Homo sapiens: one gene and its partners. The protein of the gene in region 3 binds, or shares a complex with, the protein of the main gene of each other region. Each region holds a gene or a part of one and is shown on either strand. Other genes may lie near its edges. The genes, in order: SART3, CDK9 and CCNT1. A codon is read from its position in the direction of its gene.

The links.
Region 1: CCNT1 (region 3) and SART3 share a complex: the UniProt entries of both Homo sapiens proteins name them as parts of the 7SK snRNP complex.
Region 2: the proteins of CCNT1 (region 3) and CDK9 are in contact, whole or in part, in a crystal structure (PDB 3BLH), measured with the Homo sapiens proteins. Residues at the interface, in NP_001231.2 of Homo sapiens: Arg5, Lys6, Arg11, Trp12, Arg26, Ile72, Gln73, Phe78, Phe89, Leu90, Lys93, Val94, Pro98, Lys99, Lys100, Leu101, Val134, Glu137, Ile139, Leu141, Gln142, Thr143, Gly145, Phe146, Glu147, Leu148, Thr149; in NP_001252.1 of Homo sapiens: Val8 (codon at 2,864), Glu9 (codon at 2,861), Cys10 (codon at 2,858), Pro11 (codon at 2,855), Phe12 (codon at 2,852), Cys13 (codon at 2,849), Lys56 (codon at 2,260), Glu57 (codon at 2,257), Gly58 (codon at 2,254), Phe59 (codon at 1,516), Ile61 (codon at 1,510), Leu64 (codon at 1,501), Ile67 (codon at 1,492), Lys68 (codon at 1,489), Gln71 (codon at 1,480), Leu72 (codon at 1,477), Leu81 (codon at 1,450), Ile82 (codon at 1,447), Glu83 (codon at 1,444), Ile84 (codon at 1,441), Arg86 (codon at 1,435), Ile99 (codon at 1,058).

What each region holds. Positions count from the first base shown.
Region 1 is NC_000012.12:108,523,048-108,530,199, forward strand, and holds part of SART3 (spliceosome associated factor 3, U4/U6 recycling protein), read right to left. Parts: coding exon 7,095-7,152; intron 3,507-7,094; coding exon 3,052-3,506; intron 2,563-3,051; coding exon 2,410-2,562; intron 1,460-2,409; coding exon 1,269-1,459; intron 588-1,268; coding exon 410-587; 3' UTR 1-409. UniProt on the Homo sapiens protein: U6 snRNP-binding protein that functions as a recycling factor of the splicing machinery. Promotes the initial reassembly of U4 and U6 snRNPs following their ejection from the spliceosome during its maturation.
Region 2 is NC_000009.12:127,781,530-127,789,033, reverse strand, and holds the start of CDK9 (cyclin-dependent kinase 9), read right to left. Parts: upstream 3,001-7,504; 5' UTR 2,886-3,000; coding exon 2,794-2,885; intron 2,334-2,793; coding exon 2,252-2,333; intron 1,517-2,251; coding exon 1,426-1,516; intron 1,088-1,425; coding exon 921-1,087; intron 821-920; coding exon 649-820; intron 491-648; coding exon 342-490; intron 1-341. UniProt on the Homo sapiens protein: Protein kinase involved in the regulation of transcription.
Region 3 is NC_000012.12:48,706,680-48,713,831, reverse strand, and holds part of CCNT1 (cyclin-T1), read left to right. Parts: intron 1-1,255; exon of another isoform or gene 1,256-1,581; coding exon of another isoform or gene 1,582-1,584; intron 1,585-7,152. UniProt on the Homo sapiens protein: Regulatory subunit of the cyclin-dependent kinase pair (CDK9/cyclin-T1) complex, also called positive transcription elongation factor B (P-TEFb), which facilitates the transition from abortive to productive elongation by phosphorylating the CTD (C-terminal domain) of the large subunit of RNA polymerase II (RNA Pol II).

The DNA of each region.
Region 1 (7,152 bases), about 60 Mb from region 3:
TTAAAATTAAAAGAATGACGGGCACATGTGCTGTGCAGGGTGGAAGAGAAGTGTCATACAAAAAGGGGCCGGAGCTGGCCAGAAACATTTGGACAACTGTGTCTCAAAAACAGTGTGTTCTCGTTTCGCTTCTGTGCCTCAGTCTTTAAGATACAAAACTATCTCAGGACACCACATCCTGGGCCCAGCCTGCAGAGTGGTCACTTTTCTGCCACTGCCCTCAATATGAGGGAGCACTGAAAGGCTCTTGACTTAGAACCCCTTCCCCTTTCTGTCTAAAGCCGAGGAGCCATCTGTGGTTGCGAGCACGCAGCACACCAGGCCTGTCCATCCCCAGTGCACTGCTGGGTGGTGGGAGGTCCGCCGGGCCAGAGTGAAGTAAGGCATTTCCTGTCTCCCAGCGTCCCGTTCACTTTCTCAGAAACAGCTTGGCAAAATCGGCATTGGACATCTTGGGTGCCTCGGTGGCTGCTGGGGCGGCAACTGCAGGAGCCGCGGCAGGGCCGTTCTCAGCCTGAGGAGCTGCAGCACTTGGGCGCTGCAGGGCACGAGGCAGTAGAGACAGCTGCGTCCTTCCCTTCCCCCTCCTAAAAGAGCAAACACTGAATGGACCTTTTGAAGCAACAATTCGTGGCCCCTCATTTATTTGTGAAAATAAGCCAAGACAGTTTTAATATAACCAGAAGTTAAAAGGTGAAAAAAAAAAAGGATAAGATAATCCCTGCCTCCTTAATTCTGTTTATGAAGTAAAAACTGCTTCAACAGACTTGGCCTTGTTCAGTTTTGGCAAAGATCAACCCTGAGCACCAGTCACACTCAGAGGGGATCAGTGTGACTATCACCTCTCAGACCTCACCAGTCACCTGGCAATTCTGCTATCTCCTCCTCATCCCAAACCAGCGAACAGCACAGCTTATGTGGATCATAGCTAGGGCCGTAGACTGGCACACACATGGGTATGAGATTTCTTTGTAAACACACAGATCCAACTGGCAAAGGGGACTTTAAAATAATCACTGCCTTATTTCTGTCTGAAATAAATGACAAGTGTAAATTGGCCAGTACCAGGCAGAGGTCACTGCCTAGGCTTGCATCCTGCTCTGGACGCCTTGCTCCAGTGGAACCACAGTGATTACCACAAGGAACAGCACATCTTGGCTTTTCTGTCCTAACAGGAAGCTAATTCATCCCGGGTTAATCCCCCCGTGATCCATGAACTGGTGCCAGCCAGGACGAAGTTTGCACTAGTCTACCATGCAAGCACTTACGCTCCGTATGTCTGCGGCAAAAGCATGGGGCCACCTGGTGCCTTCCTGGTCTCCGGCTTCTCTGGAACTTTCCTCTGAGGAGGGTTGCTGATTGCCACTTTGATGATGTTCTCTTTGATAGTCATGCCGTCCATCTTCATCACAGCCTGCGACGCCTGGGATTCATTTTCATACTCCACGTAGGCCAGGCCCTGGAAGAGGCAAGATCCAGAACCAAGTCAGATCCCGCAGACTAGGGACGCAACCTCCTCCTGCAGGGCAGGCACTGGGCTTCCTCCCGGAGACCAGCAGACCAGGCCACAGCAAACGACCCACCAACAGGTTACCTTCCCCACCACCGCATCCTCTGTCTACAGGCTTATTTCCCCACCCTACTCTCCTTCCCGAGTGCTGCTATGCACTGTAACTTCAGATAACCCTTCCAAGTTCAGCACACCTTGTACGTGCTGCAGAAGTAGAAAGAAAGAAGGAAAAAGACAGATGGACCAGTATAAATCCAGCAAATAAACCAAGAGGTGGATGGGACACAGGGCCAGCAGCCCAGGTGCCCAGGTGAGCCCTCGTGTTTCTGTGCCTTCACCCGCTCCCTCATTTCATCCTCTTTTTCTCTCCATTAACCTGGATAAAGGGGAGGGAGAGTGGGCAGTGGGTAGACAGTAATGAAACCACTTACTACTCAAAATGGGGCACAAAAGGACTTAGCAGGAGACTGAGGGGGCAAGAAGGAAAGACAGGAGAAGAGGCACTGCAATGGAGGGACTCAAGGGGCCTGGTTGGAGGCCCCAGAGAAAGAGAGGCCTGGGACAGAGGGAGAAGGCTGCAGGAGGGCGCCCACCCCAAAGCCCGTATGCTGCTGGTCACAGGGCTTCCCCCAAGCCCCACAGCCAGGGGCCATAGTGTGGTGAATTCATGATCCTCTATTTCCAAGTGTCTTATTCTTTTTAGTACAATTAACTACAAACAGGTTAATCTGACTCCAAATATAAGTAGAGCTAAGTGCAGATCTTTCTGTGAAATTAACTTTTGTTTCTCAGCAGACAAACTAGGAACCCATTCTAGAGGTTAAATCATCTTTGAACCGATACAGAAACGAAGTTTGCCCAAGCCTTGAAGACAAGGCACAATCTGCTCTGACTCTGACCTTTGGTTTGCCAGCCCGGTTGGTGACCAGCCTGAGGTCCTTCACGGTGCCATGAGCCTTACAGATTTCTTCTAGTTCCTCTTTAGTACAGGAGAAAGGCAGGCCTGAGATGAACAGCTTGTGTTTCTCTAGGGAAGTGCTGTACCTGAACACCTATAGGAAGAAGGAAGACAGAGAAAAACCATGATTCGAGGCATGACCCAGCTCACCTGACTCCTCTGACACCAGCCTTGTCCCCATGAGCAGCCCAGCCAGGCAGACTAGAGCCAAGCCATGCTCTGAAACTTGTTAATGGGGCCACCGGAGCGAGTCACTTAACCTCTCCAGGCCTCCATGTCTTCCTCTGTAAAACGGCAAGAATAAAAGTAACCATTCACAGAGTCTCATGAGGAGTCAATGAGCTGACACACATAAAGCATTCAGCACAGTCCCTTGTCATTGCTAAGCACCCAGCAAGAAGGAGCCATGCCATGAGTCAGACCTCAGTCAACCGGCTCAGGATGGACCTTGGCTCACAAGGAAGTTTAGATCCAAACAGAGCGTAAAACTTCCATGTCTATCCTAAATATCACTGCTGCAGGAAGAAAGTGCCTGTCTAAAGCAACCACAGATGAAAGGCATTCTTTTTTTCCATAAACCTACCTTAAAATCGGGGTTTTTGCTCTTATCCACACAGGGGGAAACAAACATTGGCCTCCCTTCTACACTTTTCCGGTCCATCTCCAGTGCCTGAAGGGCTGATTTCTCTTCTTTAAACTCCACGTAGCAGTAACCTCGGAAATCCCCACGGTTGCTGAAGATGGGTCGGATCTGGACCACCTCCCCACAGGCCTCGAAGAGTGGCCTGAGCTTCGTGTCCGGCTCCTGCATGCTGTAGGGCAGGTTGCTGACAAAGACGGTGATGCTGTCCTTGCTGCTGTCGTGCAGCACCTTGGGCATGTCCCTCTTCAGGGAGGCTGCCTTCTCCTTCTGCTTCGAAGGGGGCTCCACATCTACGGCAGCACATTTCCCAGCGGGCCCTGCTGCTACTTCTACATTTTGTGTTTCTCCAGCTGCAGGGATGCTGTTCTCGACCCTTCTGCGTTTGGAAGGCTGCTCTACAGGTTTTCAAAAGAAAAGTAGCCATGGTTAACTGTTACTTCTCTTCAGGGAGCTTGAACAGAGGTGTGAAGTGAAAGTGCTGTGACAGCTGCATGTGACACTTACTCCCTCACCAGACTCGGAGGGGCAAGCACCACCCCGAGAAGTCTTTTGTGATCCGCCTGACCTGTCCCACGACTTTCTGTGCCCCAATTACACTCGGGTAAGTGGGCTCAATCAAGTGGAAGTAATAACATAAATCCCCATTGTCCACTCTTAATTATACAAAAGGTCAGTGGATCTCAAAGTTCAGAAGGCAAATTCCAGGGCCCCTCTCCTACAAAGCCCAGATCAGCAGGGTTGGGATAGGACATGAGAATCTGCACTGGAAAAGCACCCTAGTGACTGATACCCGTGCCCCAGGGAGCACATTTTGGAAAGCACTACAAAGGATCTGTGGTTTCTAAAACACTTTCAATATGGCCTTGTGTCCTTAAGAGAGCTTAACCACAATCTTCTACTGCAGTCTGTCCTCACCACTGCCTCCAGAGGGCCAGTACTGAAGCTCAACAGACATCAGCCTCCGGCAAACAGACCTCCCCATCAGTTCACCCGCTGCCTTTCCAATGCAACGTAAGCCCTGCACACTGCTACTGTATTCAAGAGTGTCCCTGGGCTGGGTCCAGCTGACTGGCCCACCTACCACTCCAGCCTCCTCGACCACTGCCCCACCCCTCTCTAATGCATCTGAGTTCAAACCCAATTATCTGCTGCTCACAGAAAATGCCAGGCTGTGCTGTGCCTTCAGGCTGTACTAACATTGGCTCCTCCCTGTGTAGCTCAGACCTTCCCTTCTCGCTGCCACAGTCACTCGGTCTTCCCCCTGGATGCCGCATCTCTTCCCCCACAGTCTTCCTGGTACGAAGTTGACCCACTAGTGCCTTCTTTGGCCTCCACCAGTATTAACAATGCCATCTCCCACAGTCCTGATCACACGCCATGCCCTGATCACACACCACTGCGGTCACACATCACATTTGCCTTATTCTGCCAAACTGGGAGGCCAGTGGAGCAATGAGCCATCCTCAGTCATTTAGGAAAGCCCAAACAAGGTGTGCAAGCAAGGTCAACTCAACGATGGATGACTCCATTCCCAGTTCTCTCTGGCTCACACATCTGTATTAAGAAAGTATACAGAGTCCTTTCAAGTCCAGAGACAATTCTTTTTTTTGTTTTGTTTTGTTTTTGAGACAGTGTCTTGCTCTCTCTCCCAGGCTGGAGTGCAACGGCATGATCTCTACTCATTGCAACCTCTGCCTCCCGGGCTCAAGTAATTCTCCTGTCTCAGCCTCCCGAGTAGCTGGGAAAACAGGCACCCGCCACCACAGCCAACTAATTTTTGTATTTTTAGTAGAGGCAGGTTTTCACCATGTTGGCCAGGTTGATCTTGACCCCTGACCTCAGGTGATCCGCCCACCTCAGCCTCCCAGAGTGCTGGGATTACAGGCATGAGCTACCGCGCCCAGCCACCAGAGACAATTCTTTACCTTGACTGACTCTCTGAAATAAATATGACCCAGAGCTGCCCGTCCCTGAAATTACAAGGGTGAAAGAAACACTGCTGGAAAATTCCACTAAGTCAGAACCATTAAAAGCAGGGCCAAGGCCAGGTGCAGTGTCTCATGCCTGTAATAACAGCACTTTGGGAGGCCAAGGCGGGAGGATCACTTGAGGTCAGGAGTTCAAGACCAGCCTGGCTAACATGGTGAAACCCCGTCTCTACTAAAATACAAAAATTAGCTGGGCATGGTGGCTGGCAAAGTGTAATCCCAGCTACTTGGAAGGCTGAAGGAAGAGAATCACTTGAACCCAGGAGGCGGAGGTTGCAGTGAGCCGAGATCACGCAACTGCACTCCAGCCTGGGCGACAGAGCGAGACTCCCTCTCAAAAAAAAAAAAAAAAAAAAGTAGGGCCAAGCCTGGCAGGTCTGTGCAGGGTTGGGGCTGCAGCAGTGGTGCGGGATGCTAGAGCCTGAATGGAAGGAAGAAGACAGGCAGGCATGGGGCAGTGACAGGGACCCAGCAGCCTAGATCTGGAAGCCTGAGTGAAAGAAGCAAGGGTGTCCATGCAGGGCCGTGCCTGGCCCCGGGTGTGGGAGACCAAACAGGGTGGGGATGGCACATATGAGAAGGGGAGGCAGGCACAGGAAGTTGATTACATACCTACAGGGGCCGGGTGGAGTAACTGAGGATGCTGAGAATAGAGGGAGCCAAGTTTCTCAAGGTCAGAGAAGGGCGTGACACAGCTGGGCACAGTGGCTCACACCTGTAATCCCAGCACTTTGGGAGGCCGAGGCAGACAGATCACTTGAGGCCACAAGTTCAAGACCAGCCTGGCCAACATGGCGAAACCTGATCTCTACTAAAAATACAAAAAATTAGCCAGGTATGATGGTGCATGCCTGTAATCCCAGCTACTTGAGAGGCTGAGGCACAAGAATCACTTGAACCCGGGAAGCGGAGGTTGAAGTGAGCCAAGATCACCCCACTGCACTCCAGCCTGGGCAACAAAGCGAGACTCTGTCTCAAAAATAAATGAATAAATAAATTTTAAAAAGAGAGAGAAGGGCATTGCAAGTGTGAAGGGGAACCCTGTGGTGTTAGACCGGAACTGGAGGTATTGGTGTGAAATCATGACTTTCAGTATATACAAATAGTTACACAAGTAAATATGGTCATAAATATGTGTACACATGCACACGCACACGCACACACACACACACTCCCTACCCTCGACCACTCAGGCCTCAGAACAATAACCAACAGCAGTGAGCACAACTAGCACCTTCTAAATACCACTCATCACTCAAAGGAACCTTGGAGAAATGATGGATTCCAGGGCTGAGTTATGGAAAGTATAAGATGACCCTTGGGTATTGTGTGCTAGAAGGTAAGGAAATGATCAAAGAACAAGGGGACAGGTCAAAGGGACATAGAAGCCTGTGTGAAGGAACTCTTGCTAGCCAAACCTGGGATAAGTAGAGAATCAGCATAAATAATTCTCAAAAGGGTCATCACCAGTGATGGAACAAAGCGAATCACAGTCCACCTGATGGGACTCAATGGGCAGGCCACAGGAGCACTTGTGCACTATTCCTGCCCGAGATGCATGAGTGGAATCCAATGCTTAGGGAGCATCAGACACACCCAGGCTGAGGGGCACAACACAGCAACTGGCCTGCCCCCTTACAAGACTGCAGGTCATCAGAGTAAAAAAAAAAAGCTGAGGAGTGCTCCAGACTCAAGGAGATCCAGGAGACAGGACAACTAAACACAATAGTGCATCCTGAACCGGATCCTTTCACTACAAAGGACATTATCAGGATAAATGGGAACCCATAGCTCATTGCTAACCCCGGCTCTGATGGCTGCATTCTAGTCATGTAGAAGAGGGCCCCTTGTTTGCAAGACATACACCCTAACAGTGATCAAAGGGTAATGGGTATCAAGCTGGTAACGGTTCAGGGAAGAAAGTTCTTCATACTGTATTCGCAACTTCTCTAACTTTAAGACGTTTCAAAACACAATTTCTCAAGAGCTCCTTACCTTCTTCATCATCGCCCCACTCTTTCTCATCATCCTCATCTGCTCCGCGCTTCTCTGG
Region 2 (7,504 bases), on a different chromosome or scaffold from region 3:
CCGCTATGGATTGGCACATACCACGTGCCAGGTCCTTCCACCCACATCACCTGGAATATGGGCTCCAACCCTGATACACGTCACATTTCTGGTTCACAGAAGAGAAACCCAGCGCTGACTCAGATGTTCTGCCCAAGGCCACAGAACAGCTGATGGAACCGAGACTGGCGCACAGCCTGTGTCAGGTGTTTTTTTCTCCCACACACTCCCCACCCCAAGACAGGCCCTGTCACCAAACCAGCCTCCCTTCCAGAGAGGAGCGCTCCTTCCATTCTACTCCCCACTCCTCCTCTGCCGGGGGACCTCGATCTCTGCACCCCGTGGGGACCGGGGCCCCGTACCTCAGGGGTGATGGAGCCGCAGAGCTGACTGATGAGGGCGAGTTGGTGCTGCTCCGTGTTGCCCTGCATGATGGGGCTGCGGGTCCACATCTCTGCCATGATGCACCCAGCACCCCACAGGTCAATGGGGGGGCCGTAGTCCCGCTCCCCTGGGAAGAAGAGCGCACCAGGAGGGCCCCTTGAGCCCGAGGGCCTCCTGAGGCTCAATGCCCCAGGGCCGGCAGCTCAAGAAGCCCTGGCAGTTGGGGGGAAGGGGCCAGGTAGATGCCTGGCCCTCACCCCCCTTGGCCCGCTCGGGAGTCCTCACCGAGCAACAGCTCCGGGGGCCGGTACCAGAGTGTCACCACACGGTTGGTGTAGCGGTTGGGCTGGCTGTTCTTGGCCAGGCTGAAGGCCCGGGCCAGCCCAAAGTCTGCCAGCTTCAGGACCCCATCACGAGTGATAAGCACATTAGCAGCCTTCATGTCCCTATGCAGGATCTGCAGGAAGGGCAAGAGTGGGTCCTTTAGTGACATCCACCCGGGAGTGGGAGCCAAGACCAGCCCAAGCCTGGGTCCTCCTCCCAGCTCTGGCCCCCACCTTGTTTCTGTGGATGTAGTAGAGGCCGTTAAGCAGCATCTGCATCACCCTCTTGATCTCAGACAGCGTGAACTTGACCAAAACATTGCTCAACAGCCCAGCAAGGTCATGCTCGCAGAAGTCGAACACCAGGTATATACTACCCTTGCAGCGGTTATAGGGGGAAGCTGAGGCAGGAATAGAAAGAAGAAAAAGTCAAGAAAACCACACCCAACACACTTTCCCACAACCAGCTTCTTTCTTCCTGCTCCAACCCACGGGCACCCATGCCCTCCAGAGCATCTGTCTGTTCCTTCCTTCACCGGTCAAATATTTTCTGAGTGCCTCTTCTGGGCCAGGGCAGGCCCCGAGGAAGCACCAGCTACGATGAAAGAGGACCAGAAAAAGCAGTCACCATGGGTCCATCTGAGTTAAGAAGAGGCAGTTTAGGTGTGCCTAGTTCCAAGTTTACAAACAAAACCTTAGGCTACAAGTGTCATCTTCTCGTAAGAACCAAATAACTTACCTTTGGTTCGACAAATCTCAATCAAGTTGACCACATTCTCGTGTTTTAGAAGCTGAAGGATCTTGATCTCCCGCAAGGCTGTAATGGGGAACTGGGTGAGAAAGAGGGGAAAGTGGTCAAGAGTGAGCGCAGTACAGAGCCCAGCCCTGGGGTCTGTACTGACAGCCAAGTTGGGAGACAGAGCAAGATCATGGGCTCTGAAACCAGCTGTCTCAGAAGCCTTGTCTATAAAATGGATATTAGTAGCATGCACACTTCAAGATGATGGTTTGAGACAACAAACTGAAACAGCAATACTTTGCTATTAGCCACTAAACGCTCGGCGGTTTCAGTCTTCAAATTTCAGCTCTATGGCTGTTTCGTTGGCAACAAACATGATGATTTAAAAATGTCCTTGCTAATGCACATTACGCAAAAGAAGGTTTATGGGAAGTTGTACTAGAGCTAAGATGGGGTGGAGAAGGGACCGCTCCTTTTAAATACATTAAATAATTGAGTATCAGACACCTTTCAAAAAGCATGCATATATAATCTTTCTTTTACATTAAGCGAAATTTAACACTAAAAAAAGGTGTTTAAAGGCTTCCTAACTTCGTGAAATAAAGTGCACACGATGCATGCATCAACTCCCCCTCCTGGCCTCACCCATAACTGCCTAAGAATGAAACATTTAGTTTTAGGGTGGAAGCCACATTCCCTGGAAATTTCTGAACTACTACAAAAAAATTAAATCTCAACCTGAGACTCCCAGAAGCAGCAGGGTGGAAAACCGACCCGGGGTCCCGGGCAGTTAGCCGGCCGGCCCGCACGCCCGATCCGTACTCACCCCCTCCTTCTCGTTTTCCATCAGCACCTTCTTCAGAGCCACCTTCTGGCCGGTCTTGCGGTGCCTGGCCTTGAACACCTCCCTGCAGGCGGAAAGGGAGACCCGAGAACTCATCAGGCCATTTCCGCAGGGCCCGCCCCTCCCCCACTACAGGAGGAGGGGCAGCAGCAAAGAGATTCCCGGGCGGGGCTGGGCTAGGTACCCAGGGCACGCGGCTACCCCGCCACCCGGCAGCCTGTCTCGTTCGGAGCCTCTGCTTCCTTCCCTCAGTCCCTTCTCCTCACTTGGGCGTCCCTTGGAGAGATCCCGCTCCCCTCACGGGCGCCTCTCTGCAGCCCCTCCCCGCCCCCACCACGGGCCTCAGGCTCCTCCCCACCAGCCGGCTCCGTCAGGCCGGGGCGGGGTGCGGCGCGGCCTAGAGACCAGCAGGCAAGCCCGGGGACAGACGACTTCTCTACCAACTCGGGGGGGGCCCGGGCATCCCGACGTCGGCCCTAGGGGTGCAGGCCCAGGGCTCCCGGCCCCGAGGGGCCCAGCCTTACCCGAAGGTGCCTTGGCCGATCTTGGCGAGCTTCTCGTATTTGGAAACTTCATCACAAAAAGGGCACTCCACCGAGTCGTACTGCTTTGCCATGGCCGCCTCCAACGCGCCGCCGCCGCCCCCAGTCGCTGCTGCCGCCGCTCCTGCTCCGGGTCCCGCCGCCGCCGCACTCCAGGCCCCTCCGCGGCCGCGCCACTTCCGCCTCCACGGCCACTTCCGGCCTCGCGGCGCCGACCCCGCCTCTTCCGCCCGCCGCCCACCGCCAGGCCCCCTGGGACTTGTAGTTCCCGAGAGGCCAGGGGGAGCCGGAGCTGCAGAGGCGCCTCCGCCGCCGCCGCCGCTGCCCCCGCCTCCGCCGCCGCCACTACTAGCGGCGGCCCCGATCGGGGGCGCGGGGAGCCGGGGCGCCGGAGCTGGGGCTCGGGGTGGCGCGTCCCGCTGCATGGGCCCGGGCCGCCGCTGCTGCCGAAGCTGCTGCCGCTCTGGCGCCCGATCCGGGGCCAGCCGCAGTGCCCTGCTCCTCCTCCTCCGACGGCGCCGCCTCCGCCGGGCTGCGCGGGGCGGCGGGCGGGGGGTCAGCCCCCGAGCCGCGGCCTGGGAGCTCCCTGGCCGGACCCGGGCCCGGGGCGGCCGGGCGAGGGGGCGAGACGGGAAGAGCCGACTAGGAGACGGCCCGAGAGCCCAGGAGGGGGCGCGTTATAAAGGGGGAGGTGCCCGGCCTCGCCCTCCCCTCCTCCTCCGCCCGCCCCCGCCCTCCTCCCTCCCACCCTCCGCGGCCGCACCTGCCGCCGCCGCCACCGCCCGCCCGCTCGCTGTCCGCCGGCCGCCCTCGGCGCGTCACCGCCCGCGGCCCCTCCTCCGCCTTCGGAGGTGGGGCCCCGCGCTCGGCACCTGGCTGCGGGCGCCCTGCCGCGTGCCTCAGTTTACCCCCACATGTCGGCTGCAGCGGAAAGCCCCTTCCTCCCCGGCTCGGAGTGCCCCCACAGAGGCGAAGGCGGGAGGCGCGGAGGGAGCGTCCTCCGGCCCTGGGAGGAGAGAACGGCCCCCGCCTCCGCCTCCCCCGGTCCCCGCCACCCTCCGTTGACATGGCAACCGACGGCCGCCAGGGGGCGCGGCGGCACTAGCGGCGACGAGCAAGCAACGCCCGGGCCTTCTATCGCTGGGGTCTGGCTCTCCGGGAGGCAGGGATGGGACCCGCAGGACTCCCACCTCCGCTGAGTCGTGCCAGAGCTGGTCGGGCCCCGAGTCAGTAATCGCAAAAAACAGCTACCATTTTCTCAGCACTCTTGTGTACTCAGGAAGTGCTGGGCGTTCCCGCCGAATCCTGAATCAACAGCCCCATAGTCAGGATCACTAACCCATTTTGCAGAAGAAGACGTTGAGGCTCAGAGGTGAGGTCATTTGCCCAAGGTCACACGGCGACAAAGTTGGGACCCGAACCTGGGTGTCTGAGTGAGGGGATTCTCTTGACTCACGCTATTCGCTGTTGGGCCAGGAGGATAGCAGTGGGGAGGCCTGCTGTCCTTATGCAGGCGCGAGCTCACCGTTCACCCCCCCCATCTCCCTCCCCCATCGCGCCCATCCCTTCCCTCGCATCTTCCTGGCTCCAGCGGCCCCCAGATTCCCCCTCCAGCTCTGCCCAAGGACAGCCTCCAGCAAAGCCGTCTTTTCTGCCTCCTCTGCCCCGCTTCAATCTGCCCCCTCCTCTCCAGCCCTCTGCGGGTGGATCCTGAGACCTAGCCCCCCAGTCTGGCCTCTCTGTCCCCGAAGAACCTGAATGTGACATTGGAGGCTCTTTCCAGTTCACACCCCACCCCTCAAGCTGTGGCCATGCAAATCTCTCTACTGTCTCCCCAAGCCTTTCTGCGTTCAGGGCGGTGCTCCCCTGATCCTACACTCCCCCAGACTCTCGTTACCCTCTCTTCCTGCAAGAAGCCATTGGAGTGGGCGCGGTGGCTCACGCCTGTAATCCCAGCACTTTGGGAGACCAAGGCAGGCGGATCACAAGGTCAGGAGTTGGAGCCAGCCTGGCCAATATGTTGAAACCCCGTCTCTACTAAAAAGACAAAAATTAGCCAGGCGTGGTATTGGGCGCCTGTAGTCCCAGCTACTTGGGAGGCTGAGGCAGGAGAATTGCTTGAACCCAGGAGGTGGAGGTTGCAGTGAGCCGAGGTCTTGCCACTGCACTCCAGCCTGGTGACAGAGAGAGATTCCGTCTCAAAAAAAAGCCCTCGGGGTGGCTCCCAGCTCTCACCCCACACTGCTTAGCCTCAAAGCCTCCTAGGAGGAGGCAGGAATGGCTTTGGTGACCTTGATGTCACAAGAGGTCTTGTTCTGGGGAAGGGCACTACCAGGGAGGGGCTGGAAGGTCAGGCTGAGGAGGAAGGAGCCCTCTCCTGAGAGTAACGTGAAGCAAGAGAGGGGTTTAGGCAGTTAGTGACGTAGGGTCGGCTTCATGGCTTACACTATTAGAAGCAGGAGGCTGTTCCCTAAATTGGAGGTGGGGAGGATAAGGAGTGAGACCATAAAAATTTTAGTAATGACAACTTATTGACGGAAAATAAATGGTCCAAGCCCTACACTTGGCACTTTATGGGAATTATCTCGGTTGCCACTCAACCACATGGGTACTGTTGTCACCTCCATTGTACACATCAGGATCCCGAGGTGACATCACTTGGCCTGGGTCAAACAGCTGGTCAGTGACCATACTGGTATTTGAACCAGGTCAGTCTGGCACAAACCCCAGCACTTCCCCATCTCGGGGCCCTGCCCATCTGGCCTAGGGGTGGAGCCACGGCATTGCTGGGGTCTGAGCAGTAGTGCGGTGGGCGGGGATCTGCGGTGGGCTTGTGTGGCCTCCATTATCCGACTACATCTCAAGCCAGGGCCTGCCGTTTCCCATGAGCCCTCCCTAAGTCACATCCTGTGGGCAAAGGCCCTAGCAGAAGTTCCGGTGGAGTTGTCACCTACACCCCGCCATCCCTCGTCTGAACCCCAGCATCCGCCCGCCACTTCCCCTTGGGGCCTCAGGGCCTCAGTCCCCACTGTGGGATGCAGGCAGGCAAGAGAGGCAGGAAAGGCCGGAAGCCTGTCAGAAAGCTACCCAGGCTGCCCAGGTCCGGGGCCCCAGATCACCAAGCTGGCAAAACCCAGGCAGAAATAAGAAGAAATGAGTGATTTCTCATTGACTGGAAACGTTTCCTGCTTCCCAGGGGTCGGCTAAGCTGGCAAGGCTGGGCATGTGGCCAGTCCTTGGTAGATGTCTGCCCCAAGAGAGCCGCTGGTCCTGCTGCCATTTAACAGAGAAGGTGAGGGCAGCACAGGAAAGGGAGGCGCTGGACAGCTGTCTGACCCCAGCCTGGACCCCCTGTTTTCCTCTGAGCAGAGACAGACGGGAAGCATAGGAGGGAAGGAGAAGATGGGTTCATGGAATGGGCTGCTCTTGGCTTTTGGTGCATCTGAAGAGACAGTGGGTCAACTGGATAGCAGGGGTACAGGACGGAGAACAGCCTGTGATACCCACAACCCTCTAAAATCACAAAAGTTGCCTGTTTGCAGTGGCTCATACCTGTAATCCCCACTTTTGGAGGAGGAGGCAGGTGAATCACCTGAGGTCAGGAGTTCGAGACCAGTCTGGCCAACATGGCGAAACCCCGTCTCTACTAAAAGTAGGAAAATTAGCTGGGTGTGATGGCGTGCATCTGTAATCCCAGCTACTTGGGAGGCTGAGTCAGGAGAATCACTGGAACCTGGGAGGTGGAGGTTGCAGTGAGCCAGGATTGTGCCACTGCACTCCAGTCTGGGCAAGAATGAGACTCCATCTCAATAATAATAATAATAGTAATAATAATAATAATAATAATAATTGGCCGGGTGCGGTGACTCATGCCTGTAATCCCTGCACTTTGGGAGGCTGAGGCAGGTGGATCACCTGAGGTCAGGAGTTCGAGACCAACCTGGCCAACATGATGAAACCCCGTCTCTAATAAAAATACAGAAAATTAACCAGACGTGGTGGCGCCTGTAATCCCAGCTACTCAGGAGGCCTGAGGCAGAAGACTCACTTGAGTCCGGGAGTGATTGCAGAGTCTGAGCAGGTTGCGGTGAGCTGAGATCTGGAGACTGCACCCAGCCTGGGCAACAAGAGCGAAACTCTGTCTCCAATCAATCAATTAATCACAGAAGTTCTGCCCACACTAGCCAGGAACTGACTCAGTGCCTGGCCTGGGGTTGACTTGCATTGTCTCCCTGAAACTCTCCAGCAGCCCTATTAGGAGGTTGTTATTATTAGACCCAAGTTACGAAAGGGGAAATTGAGGCCCAGATTGGTGTGGCCTGCCCCAGGCTACACAGCCAGGAAGCTATGAAGCTGGGATTTAAAGCCAGGTTTCTTTACTCTCAAAGCCCAGGGTCATTTGCCATCATCCCACACTGTCCCCAATGTCAGGTCAACTGAGGGAGAAGCATCTGTTGAGCACCCATGATCCAGTCCTCATATGGAAGGGGGCTAGTGTGGATGGGTAAGGCCCCGGCCTCTCTCAGAAGGCTTCAGGTCTGTTCGGAACATGCAAATAAAGACACAAGGGGATTAAATCAAAATGATACTCTTGGTATAAATATTTTATTTTGCTGCCATGAGATCATGTAAGGGATGTTATATTTATCCTATTTTACTGATGGGGAAAAAAAAAAGAGGCTCAGAGAGGTGA
Region 3 (7,152 bases):
CATGTGGAATTTAGGTATAGCTTTCTTTTTCTTGCTGGGGTAGGGAGACAGGCAGGGTCTTGCCCTGTTGTCCATGGTGGAATGCAGTGATTTGATTATGGCTCATTGCAGCCTTAACCTTCTGGGCTCAAGCAGTCCTCCTGCCGTAGCCTCCCAAGTAACTGGGACCACAGGCTTGCCAACATATCTGGTAATTTTTAAAATTTTTTTTGTGAAGATGGGGTCTCCCTGTGTTGTCCAGCCTGGTCTCAAACTCCAGGGTTCAAGGGATCCTTCCGCCTCCGCCTTCTAAAATGTTGGGATTACAGTCATGAGCCGCCATTCCTGGCATTAATTTTGAAGTAGTTTATAAAATATGGTCACAGCAAAAGAAGTAAATGTAAGTTACTTAGATTTTCCAAAAGCCTTTGATAAAATTCCAGTCAGCAGTTGGAGGGGAAAGCACATTATGTAATAATAACTGGGAAAATGACTTTTAAGAACATGAAAAATAGGCTATGCATGGTGGCTCATTCTTATGTATAATCACAGCACCTTGGGAGGTTCAGGTGGGAGGACTGATTGAGCCCAGGAGTTGGAGACCAGCCTGGGCAACACGGTGAGACCCCGTTTCTACAAAAAAAAAAAAAAAGGTAAAAAAAATTTTACAAAGAACAGGAAGAATAAAATTATACTAATAAAGAAATTTTATTTTTTTGTACAGAATTATAAATAGTGATCTTTTCAGTGTAGCTATTTGAAATGGTCCTATTTAACATTATTATAAATGACTTGGAATTGAATGCATAGTGATATCCCAGTTCTAGGAAGGACTGTATTTACTTAATAAAACGCCAAGGTAATAGGGATAAACTTGATGAGTACTTCATATGGATTGATTTTTTTTTTTTTGAGATGGAGTTTCGCTCTTGTTGCCCAGGATGGAGTGCAATGGCACGATCTTGGCCCTTTGCAACCTCCGCCTCGCAGATTCAAGCAATCCTCTTTCCTCAGCCTCCCAAGTAGCTGGGATTACATGCATGTGCCACCACACCTGGCTAATTTTTGTATTTTTAGTAGAGACGAGGTTTCACCACGTTGGCCAGGCTGGTTTTGAACTCCTGACCTCAGGTGATCTGCCCGCCTCAGCCTCCCAAAGTGTTGGGATTACAGGTGTGAGCCACTGCACCGGCTGTATACTTCAAATGGATTTGTGAGTCAAGTATTTCCCTGCTTTTTTTTTTTTTTTTTTTTTTTATTTTTTTTTTTTTTTAAGGAAAAGATTATCCTGCTGGGCACGGTGGCTTAAGCCTATAATCCCACAACTTTAGGAGGCTGAGGCGGGCGGATCACCTGAGGTCGGGAGTTTGAGACCAACATGGAGAAACCCCATCTCTACTAATACAAAAATTAGCCAGGCGTGGAGTTTCATGCCTGTAATCCCAGCTACTCAGGAGGCTGAGGCAATCACTTGAACTGGGGAGGCCGAGGTTGTGGTGAGCCGAGATCGCTATTGCACTTCAGCCTAGGCAACAAGAGCGAAACTCCATCTCAAAAAGAAAAAGATTATGCTTTTGAGGATGCTTATTTCGTATCCTTAGAATGGTGGGTTTTCAGATTTATTATTACTTTTTTAATGCTGTAGAAAGAGAGTTTATGAAGCTAGACATAGCTCCTGAAATGTAAGAAACTGGCAGAAACAGTATTGGGAGTAACTGCACAGGAAACTTTTTGGATTTGTGAATTAAGATTTTTGTGGGCCAGGTGCCGTGGCTCAACGCCTGTAATCCCAGCACTTTGGGAGGCCAAGATGGGCGGATCACGAGGTCAGCAGATCAAGACCATCCTGGCTAACATGGTGAAACCCCGTCTCTACTAAAAATACAAAAAAAATTAGCCGGGCGTGGCGGTGGGCGCCTGTAGTCCCAGCTACTCGGGAGGCTGAGACAGGAGAATGGCATGAACCCAGGAGGTGGAGCTTGCAGTGAGCCGAGATCGTGCCACTGCACTCCAGCCTGGGCGACAGAATGAGACTCCGTCTCAAAACAAAAAGAAAAAGATTTTTGCTGATGATCCACCCAGGTTGGCTTTCTTCTGCCCTTAGCCCCTGTACCTCTAGTCATGCCCTGGAGCTTTGCTCTGGCTCTGATTGCAAGGAGTATATCCTTCTTATTAAAAGAGAGAGAAGCCTGTTAGCATTTAACGAGGCTATCTGATAGCACCAGAATAGAAGGTAGTGAGTAGTTAAAAAGTGAAATTTGAAGAGGAAATTCCTAGCCATTTTGCCAGTTCTGAAGGTTTTCTATAATTCTTCCCTTTTATTATGATAAAGACTTGAAATTTGGGGTGAAGTGAATCTCAAATCAAAAAAAGAAACTCTCAAATCAGTTTGTCCACTCTTCATGTATAGGTTAATATATATTTTCCCCTCCTTTTAACTTTTATTTATTTATATATTTATTTATTTATTTTTGAGATGGAGTCTCACTCTGTCACCCAGGCTGGAGTGCAATGGCGCCATCTGAGCTCACTGCAACCTCCACCTCCCAGGTTCAAGCGATTCTCCTGTCTCAACCTCCCAAGTAGCTGGGACTACAGGCACCCGCCACCACACCCAGCTAATTTTTGTATTTTTAGTATAGACAGGGTTTCACTATGTTGGCCAGGCTTGGCTTCAACTGTTGACCTTATGATCTGCCCGCCTCATCCTTCCAGAGTGCTGGGATTACAGGTGTGAGCCACCGCGTCCAGCCTTATCTTTTAAGTTATATCTTTTTTTATTTTTTTGAGACCTGGAATCTCTCTCTTTCCCCCAGGCTGGAGTGCAGTGGCTGCGCGATCTCAGCTCACTGCAACCTCCGCCTCCTGGGTTCCAGCAATTCTCCTGTCTCAGCCTCCCGAGTAGCTGGGATTACAGGCGCCTGCCACCACACCCAGCTGATTTTTGTATTTTTAGTAGAGACGGGGTTTCACCATCTTGGCCAGCCTGGTCTTGAATTCCTGACCTCACGATCCACCCGCCTTGGCCTACCAAGTGCTGGAATTATAGCCATGAGCCACTGTGCCAGGCCATATCTTTTTATTTCTTATCTGTTAAGCTTAACAAGGACAGAGATTCCCTTTTCTGTATATTCTCTAAAGCAGTTTCAGTAAACTTATTGAATGAATGGATGATCTGGTAGTTATCCAATATAGAGATATTCTTTCAAACATTTTTATATATATTTATTTTTTAGAGACGGGAGATCTCGCTCTGTTGCCCAGGCTGGTCTCAAACTCCTGGCCTCAAGCTGTCTTCCCACCTCAGTCTCCCAAAGTGCTGGGATTGCAGGCATGGGCCACTGCACCTGGCTAGTATAGGGATATTCTTTTGGATGTCATGACCTTTTTCAAAATCCACTGATTAATTTGAAGTTGTTGATCCTTTTTAGAGGATTGATTTTAGGCACATTTTGGAATCAACAGATTCCAGATTTAATATCACCTTTTAACATACTAATTCTAAGTTTAGCTGTGATGAATCCAAATTTAAATGTGAGAGGACTTAATACATTAAATGTGGCCTAATAATCAATGTGGCATTGATATGTTATATATCCTGTCAAGTCCTCAGGCATTTTTGTATGTGTGTGTGTGTTTTTCTTATTACAAAGGTATTAGAGGCTGGGCGTGTTGACTCAGGCCTGTAATCCTAGCACTTTGGGAGGCCGAGTTGGGTGGATCATTTGAGGTCAGGAGTTCGAAAACATCCTGGCCAACATGGTGAAACCCCGTCTCTATTAAAAACACAAAAATCAGCCGGGCATGGTGGCGTGCACCTGTAGTCCCAGCTACTCACTTGGGAGGCTGAGGCAGAATTGCTTGAACCCGGGAGGTGGAGGTTGCAGTGAGCTGAGATCGTGCCGTTGCACTCCAGCTTGGGTGACAGAGTGAGACTCCATCTCAAAAAAAAAAAAATGAAGAAACCCAAAGATATTATAATAAATTCCCATGGTAAAAATTAAGACAGTACAGAAATGTATGTGGAAAGTGAAAACTACTCTGTAATCCCACCCAGAGATAACCATTGATAAATGTTTGGTTTATAGTGACCCAGACATTTTTCTGTGCACATAAACTAGCATTGAGGTATTTTTATTTAAAAAATCATATCTTGCTATGCTACTGTTGCACAGCTTGCCTTTATCATGTAACAGTATGTATTGGACATCTTTCCATACTTCCCTTTATTATTTTTTGGATTTCTTATTATTTTAATTTGCCACATGGTATTTGTGTAGTTACTGTAGTTTATTTAACCAGCTTTTTATTGATAGCTATTTGGGTTGTTGTTCTAGTTTATTATATTGTACATTATGTTTCATGGGATAGTCTTGTACATATATAGTGCACTTATATAAGCATTTTAATACAAGTTCCTATAGGTGGAATTGCTGTGCCCAGAGTATACAATGTATAAAAATTTTTGTAGTGTCAGTTTGCCCTACTGAAAGATTATACATTGTTTCCAGCACTGTAGGTGAGGGTCCTTTTCTTTCCACCCTAACAAACAACAAATATTAATTACCTCAAGAAACATTTATCTAGTTCTTTGTTTTTGAAACGGAGTCCCCTCTGTTGCCCAGGAGTGCAGTGGTGCCATAATTTAGTTTAGTTTTATTTTGGTTTTATTAGTTTATGCCATACTTTTAGTTTCTAATAGGCTTAAAACCTTAGTCTTTGACTTGTCCTTTTCCCCTTTGTTCAGTTAGTTATAGTCCCCCCCAACCCCAAGATAGGTTTTTACTCTGTCACCTAGGCTAGGCTGGAGTGCAGTGGTACAATCATAGCTCACTGCAGCCTCCATGTCCTGGGCTCAAGTGATCCTTCCACCTTACCAAGACTACAGTGCCACCACGCCCAGTGAATTTTCCTTTTGATTTTTTGTAGAGATGAGGTCTTGCTATGTTGCTCAGGCTTGAGCTCAAGGGATCCTCCTGCCTTGGCCTCCCAAAGTGCTAGGATTATAGGCAAGAGTCTGCACCCAGCCTATAAAGTCTTGCTAATTTTATAATGTTACCATTTTTTCCCTCTCCTTATAAATATGTACTTTTTAAATTATCAAAAAATTGGAAGAGGACGGACAGGAAATAAAGAGATAATCCTGTTAACATTTTAGAGTATATCCCATTAGAATTTTTTCTTTGTATGCAAGTACATGTACATATATTTAGTGCAGCCCTATTAGTTTTACAAAGTGATGCCTGTGTTTCTTTTTTCCTTTATTTCTACTGCTAGTGTCTAAACTTTTTTTTTTTTCTTTTTTTGAGACAGAGTCTCGCTCTGTGGCCCAGGTTGGAGTGCAATGGCGTGATCTTGGCTCACTGCAACCCCCACCTCCTGGGTTCAAGCGATTCTCCTGCCTCAGCCTCCCAAGTAGCTGGGACCAAAGGCGTGTGCCACCACTCCTGGCTAATTTTTGTATTTTTAGTAGATATGGAGTTTTACCACGTTGTCCAGGCTGTTCTTGAACTCCTGACCTCAGGTGATCTGCCTGCCTTGGCCTCCCAAAGTGCTGGGATTACAGGCGTGAGCCACCACGCCCGGCCTACTCTAAACTTTTTAAAATTCTTTTTTCTATATTTTAAAATAATTTTTAAAAAACAGAGACAGGGTCTCATTGTGTTACGCAGGCTGATCTTGAACTTTGGGCTCAAGTGATTCTCCTGCTTTGGCCTCCCAAAGTGCTCTAAACTTTATGTCCTAATGCCTAAATTATTATTTAAGTTAACTTTTATTTTATTTTTTGAGACAGTATGGCTCTGTTGCCCAGGCTGGAGTACAGTGGCATGATCTTGGCTCACTTCAACCCCTGCCTTCTGGGTTCAGGCAATTCTCCCGAGTAGGTGGGACTACCCTACTACAAGACTCCTGAGTGGTGGTGTGTGCCACCACGCCCGGCTAATTTTTGTGTTTTTAGTAGAGACGGGGTTTCACCATGTTGGCCGGGCTGGTCTTGAATTCCTGACTTCAAGTGATCCGCTACCTCGGCCTCCCAAAGTGCTGGGATTACAGGCGTGAGCCACAACACCCAGCCTGAATTAACTTTTAATGTATCCCATCCTTTTCTCCTAGTTTTACCTACCATCAGATTACTCCTTCTAAATATTACTTTGTTTTAAAAATTTATTTTTATTAATTATCATGGGTACATAATAGTTATATACATTTATCATAAACATTTCTTAAACGATATTTTTCAAAATCTTTAGTGTCACTCTTGTTAAGAATCTTGGCTGGGTGAGGTGACTCACACCTGTAATCCTAGGACTTTGGGAGGCAGAGACAGAATTACTTGAGCCCAGGAGTTTGAGCAGCCTGGACAATGTAGGGAGACCCCATCTCTATTAAAAATAAAAATAAATTAACTGGGTGTGGTGGCGTGTGCCTGTGATCCCAGCTACTTCGAAGGCTGAGATGGGAATATCTCCTGAGCCCAGGAGGTTGAGTGGAACTGTGATTTTGACGCCACTGCACTGCAGCTGGGTGACAGAGTGAGATGCTGTCTCAAAAAAAAAAAAAAAAGAAAGAAAAAAAATCTAGTGTTCCACATCCGATTATCTAATGTATTTAACTACTCAGTTTAGTATTGAAAATGTGCTTTACGCCTAGATCACCATACCTTTGTTCATATCCATTTTTCTCTGATCCTGTTTTGTTTATCCTAAAGTCTGAGGAATATATATGTAGTATGCTTCATATTCATCTGAAACAAATGTGAAGGAAAAGAATCACTGTGTTTACTTAAAACAGTTTTTTCCGTATGTGTATGGAGATGGAGTCTCTCTCACTATGTTGCCCAGGCTGGTCTCGGACTCCTGGGCTCAAGTGATCCCCCGCCTCTGCTTCCCAAAGTGCTGAGATTATAGGCTTGAACCACTGTGTCTGGCCTAAAAAAATTTTGTTTTAAATTATTTTTGTCTCCTATGGTCTTGTCTGAAATCAATACTATGAGTTGAATTTGTGGAGAAAAACTTACTCTAGAAAAGTATAGCATAGGTGACATCAGGGTTACAAATAAGTATTAGAATATCAGTTCTAGTCAGTAAAATGAAATATATATTTAAATTCTGTAAAATTATTTATGTATTTCTTTGACTCCTGGTGAAATACAGCTCTTAGCATTACTATCTT